Linked DNA regions of Homo sapiens: region 2 is linked to region 1. Evidence: fine-mapped expression QTL. Tissue or cell type: fibroblasts. Region 1 holds a variant in brackets; the other region holds the start of a gene. All regions are shown on one strand. Distances are from middle to middle.

Evidence for each region. PIP is the estimated chance that this variant, and not a neighbour inherited with it, causes the effect.
Region 2: it holds the start of PEX5, and the variant in region 1 is fine-mapped to the expression of PEX5 in fibroblasts (GENCORD, PIP 0.95).

The regions. Positions count from the first base shown.
Region 1 is chr12:7,217,723-7,220,484 of GRCh38, forward strand. It overlaps a transcript of PEX5 not described here. Among named protein-coding and RNA genes, the nearest start is that of PEX5, 29 kb to the left of the region's middle. The variant ATCTT/A (reference allele first, on the strand shown) is at 1,165.
Region 2 is chr12:7,188,125-7,190,886 of GRCh38, forward strand. It overlaps PEX5 (peroxisomal biogenesis factor 5), which reads left to right and starts at 1,562. Exons shown (of 16, transcript NM_001351132.2): 1 at 1,562-1,626; 2 at 2,238-2,400. The coding sequence starts at 2,254. RefSeq lists enhancers at 47-548, 549-1,048, 1,359-1,418, 1,419-2,135, 2,129-2,278 and 2 more and silencers at 459-508, 1,529-1,938.

The DNA of each region.
Region 1 (2,762 bases):
CCTGGGCTGGCTGCAGGGGCTTTGCAGCCTCCACCCATACACCCAAGCTGGAAATGACTTAGGGGGCCAACAGGGACACTATAGGCCCTGCTGCATAGCGAGTGTCCTGCATGTGCACCTGTACATTCCTCCCCTCCCTGAGTTGTACGGGCTGCACTGTGCCTTTACCCTAAGTCCCTTCACAGTCAGTCCCTGGCTGTTGTCCCTTTGTGGTGGTCAGCAAGAGACGTGCAGTTTCAGTTCCATGCAGAGTGGGATGGCAACTTCAGGGAGGGGAGTTAGTTAGTCTAACTAATATCAGTTAGACGTTATTTTACTTATAAGTTCAACCCTGAATCAAGGGTGTGAAGAAATAGACTCCATCTCTTGATGGGGAGATGGAGAGAGAAGAAATGACACACTGCAAAGAGATGTGGATACAGGGAGGTATGATTTATTGACGATTATTATGATAGTGACCTATCACCAGTAGCCTTTAAGAGTCCTTCCAGGATTCATATAGATGCTTAATGGTCTTTCTTATATCAACTAAAGTAGGAATTCATTGCAATTGAGACACTTTCTGGTCTTTAAATATAAGAATATTCTAGAGACGGGCAAACTATTCTAGGTCAAAGTTTCCTCAAGTGGAAACTGTACGACTGGGTTTTATTCAATTTACCCATTTGTTTTTCTTTAGAAATATACAGCCTCTGCAGACACTGCTTCTGAATGAACGGGCTGGAGTTTCCTTGGGATCCTGAACTCATATTGGATTCTCTACCTACCATCTTGGACAATTCATGTAGGAAAACAAATCCTCATTTGTTCAAACAATAGATGAAAATTATTAAAGTTTTGACACATATTAAATGGCGGCCTTGTGTTTCAAAGAAAAGGAAAGAGATAGTTGAATCAGGGTAAAACAACCCACTCACAACCTTAGGCTAAGACACTCACACAGCTTGTCTTCTAGCAAACTGCGTATTTAATCTGCTAAGGCAATGGGGACCTTGTCTTGAGATAGAACTGCCACTCAGGGTCATATCTTTTGTTCTCCTCTAAACTCTACTCTAGTTGAAGTTTTCTAACAATCTGGGAACCCTTATCCCCCAATCCCTGCAGAATGGCTTAATCTAACACGTCGTAAAGAAGGAAACTTCTTGTCTTAACTTGGTTTAAAAA[ATCTT/A]TCTAACGACACAATTTTCAAAGGCTTCATCAGTTTAAAAAGATTATTGTGCTGACTCCATTAGCAATATCTGGCAGCCGCTACTAGGCAGCAAAACCTACCATGACTACCACTATTATATATTTGCAGTTCTCTTACTTTTTGGTGTTTTTTTGAAAAAAATTTTTTAATTTTTGTAGGTACATAGTAGGTATATATATTTATGGGCTACATGAGATATTTTGATACAGGAATGCAATATGTAATAAACACAGGGTAAATAGGGTATCCATTACCCAAGCATTTATCCTTTGTGTTACAGACACTCCAGTGATATTCTTTTAGTTATTTATAATGTATAATTAATTATTTTTGACTATAGTCACCATGTTGTGTTAGAGAATACTAGGTCTTATTCATTCTTTATAATTATTCTTTTGTACCCATTAACCATCCTCACTCCCCCCCACCCACCCCACTACCCTTCCTAGCCTCTGGTAACCATCCTTCTACTCTATCTCCGTGAGTTCAGTTGTTTTAATTTTTACTTCCCACAAATAAGTGAGAACATGTGACGTTTATCTTTCTTTGCCTGGTTAATTTCACTTAACATAATGACCTCCAGTTCCAACCATGTTGTTGCAAATGACAGGATCTCATTCTTCTTTATGGTGTTCTCAAAGCCAAAATATCTTCAATTGTTTGGACCATACTAGAAGCAGGCACAAAGTCAGACAGCCTTCAACATTCAAACAGAAATGGACACCAACACTCTTCTGGCCCGTATTTGGGCTCACTTAGGAAGTTAAAATGAGATCTATAATCTCAATGTTTTTGTTTGAATAGCTGACCTAACAGTGGAAGAAGACAACATGATAGGCATATGTGTTCCAGGTAAGAGAAAGAAAAAAGCATCAATCATAGGAGTCCAAACTATTTGGAATTGCCAACTCTGGCACTAAACAGCAGATGGCGCCAAAGGACCTTAGTAGCAACCAAGAGATTTGCTGCCATCTCTCTTTCTGCTTTCTCCTCCATCTACCCAAGATTGCTAGGCCTCAAGGTCTGGAGTTAAGAGCATAGGTTCAGGAGTCTGACTGCCCACCTTCACAGTACCACATTTGCTACTTGGGTGACCTTAGATGACTGACTTAACTTGGTTTTCCTCTTTGCAGAATAGGAATGTTAAGAAAAACCCTACCTCCCAGGGTTATTGGTAAGATTAGAATAATTATTACATATCATCATAAGGAATAGTTCCTGCCATATAAGTTTAAAAAATGTTAGCTATTACTCACTGAAACGCATTCCTTTCTATATTTTAACATCTTCAGTGGCATCTAATCTTGATGCATTGCCACCTCTCCTTTAATCCCCACCTAGGCTCCGTGGGGAACTTCCTATGACAAATTGACTAGGAAAAAAATTCAGGTCTGATTTACAGATGGTTCTGATGATATGCTGGTACCTCCTAAAAGTGGATGACCACGGCATTATAGAATTCCCCAAGGGTGATCCTGAAAGGCAGTTAGGAAGAAATATCTTCTTAATGGTCAGAACTTTGAGCAGTGCACTTAGCTGTCCATTTTACCTGGAAGGAGAAAGGCCAGAAGTT
Region 2 (2,762 bases), 30 kb before region 1:
GATCTGCACACAAAGTGAGTTACGGCTAATCAGTTGATAAACTCCTAGCAGAGCAGAAGGTTATGTGTGTTGTGATGTTTAAGTGGTACTGGGAAACTCTGGTTGCCTTGAGGTTCTGAAATTCTACTGTATCAGATGGGTTCCTTTAAACATTGCTCTCTCTAGGGGGTCCTCTTTTTAAAAGTATGCACCTTCTGGAGGGCATCTCTTCATCCTTGTGTGGTTTAGTTTATCAGGTATTTTCCTCACGATGGCAGCCTGAGAACAGGGGACGCCCAAGGGCTGGGATTTGTGTGCTCCGGAAGAAAACGGGGTGTAGAAGTGGGGCCTCTGAAAGAGGGCGAAAAGGCAAGGAAAAGGAGAAATGTTGCACAGTCTTATGGTCTGTCCCCTGCCATTCTGTTCCCCTGAGGTGTCAGAGCAGCTTCTCTGTCTTCCCAGGGATGAGTTTACACAGACATTCCCTGTGGCCCCCTGAGGCCTCCACCTCTGAAATCTGCAGAACAGCCAGGAAACAAGCCCGGCCCATGGCGCCACCTGCTGCCTGCCTGCCTCCGCTCATGCACCCTGGGCTGGGATGGTACTTCTGTTCGTCTGGCATTATTGCCCTTGGTCATTTACCGGCAGCCCTGGGCCCCTCCTTGCTCTTCTCCATGACACTAGGACTCCCTTGGTCTTGAAGCTGGGTGAGATTATCAGGGTTTGTTTCTCAATGACTTTGAGGTTTGACAGCAGAGCACACTCTTTGGCAGATGAGGGGGCTTGAGGCTTAGTCTTATTCCGTGATTAAAAGCATTTCTTGTATGTTTGTCCTTTCCCAGCCTGGAGTGATGGGAATAAGGCCACTATGTTGACTTAGCGGAAGGAAGGGCTGACTCACTGTTCACCTTCCCTGTACGTTACCAGCTCGAGGTCTCAGGATGCGTTGGACCCTATTTTGGTCTCCGGAATTTGTCATCATGCAGTGCTATTTTCCCCATTATGCAGAGGTGGAGAGGGATTAAGGCGGGGGCGGGCCCCTGTCTCCATGGAGACAGTGACGCTACCCCGCTAGGGGTTATTTGGAAGCGGGGCAGGCCTAGGAGGCTGAAGAAGGCTTCGGACTGGACTCCCCAGCCCCTGGTGTTAGGGCTTTTCTCTTTCTTGGGCTTGGGAACATTAGCCAGCCCCATTTTAGAGGGGAAAACTGAGGCTCAGAAAGGGCACTGAATCCCCTTAGGTCACAATGCGCCCAAGGGAAGAGGCAGGATCGACTGAGCCTAGGATCTCGCGTCTTCGGCTTTCCCCCAGAGCCTGGGAAGCCCTTCTTAGCTCCACTCTTCTTTGAGCTTTCCGTCAAACAAATCCTAGGGCCCGTGGCCTTTTCGAGCGCTCCTAAAGGCGACTCTCCAAGACCCGCTCTCTAAGGTGCTCTTCCCCTTTAAGACTCACGGCTCTTCCCGTCAGGCTGCGTCGCAGTCTTAAGGCCCCGCCTTTTCAGACAGCTTCCGCTGGGCCTGGGCCGCTGCGGGGCGGTCACGGCCCCTTTAAGCCTGAGCCCCGCCCCCTGGCTCCCCGCCCCCTCTTCTCCCCTCCCCCAAGCCAGCACCTGGTGCCCCGGCGGGTCGTGCGGCGCGGCGCTCCGCGGTGAGCGCCTGACCCCGAGGGGGCCCGGGGCCGCGTCCCTGGGCCCTCCCCACCCTTGCGGTGGCCTCGCGGGTCCCAGGGGCGGGGCTGGAGCGGCAGCAGGGCCGGGGAGATGGGCGGTGGGGAGCGCGGGAGGGACCGGGCCGAGCCGGGGGAAGGGCTCCGGTGACTTAAGGGGAGGGAATGCTCCTCTGCCGTGCTCACCGCGTGCTGGGGCTGCGCGGGGCTAGGTATGGTCGGGCTGTTTTCCCACTGTCCCTTCTTCGGGCAGTGTCGCCGTCCAGCCTGGTTGTTGAAGCGTCCCCGTGGTCCCCCGGGGTCCAGGCCCCTTTGTGGAGGCAGCTGCTGGCCCCCAGCCCATGGGACCGTAGTCGCGGAGGCCTCTGCAGAGGCGCAGGCTGGAAGCGGTGGCCTTTGAGGGGGGCGGCAGGAGAGAGTACCGACCTCCCTCGAACTCCTGGCAGAGGTGGGGGTCGCAGCAAAAGCACTGGGGTGGAGGGCGGCCAGTGTGGGGCAGACGCCTGTGTGCCTTCCTCAGATACGGGCAGAGTTGTGGATGTGAGAAGGGTCTGGCTTGGGTACCTCAGTTCCAAACCTCCTGTGTCCATCAGAGAGCTGGCGGTCACCATGGCAATGCGGGAGCTGGTGGAGGCCGAATGCGGGGGTGCCAACCCGCTCATGAAGCTCGCCGGGCACTTCACCCAGGACAAGGCCCTTCGGCAGGAGGGATTGAGGCCTGGCCCCTGGCCCCCCGGAGCCCCGGCCTCTGAGGCAGTGAGTGTTCTTGAGGTGGAAAGCCCAGGTGCAGCCTCTGAGGCAGTGAGTGTTCTTGAGGTGGAAAGCCCAGGTGCAGCCTCTGAGGCAGTGAGTGTTCTTGAGGTGGAAAGCCCAGGTGGTGGTGGTCTGAGGTGGAGGGGCTGTTTGCACATCTTGGTATAACTGCTTTCTCTATTGTGTTGCAAATCATAGTAGTTACCACTTACTGAGCGTTTATAAACACTAGAAAACCCTGTGCACCTTTAAATAAATGCAACCATTTTATAGATGAAGAAGCCGAGGCTCAGATGCCTATGGGCTTCATCAACCCCTGATTTTAGAGGAACTGCGTCATTGTACATCTCTGTCTTTCTCTCTTA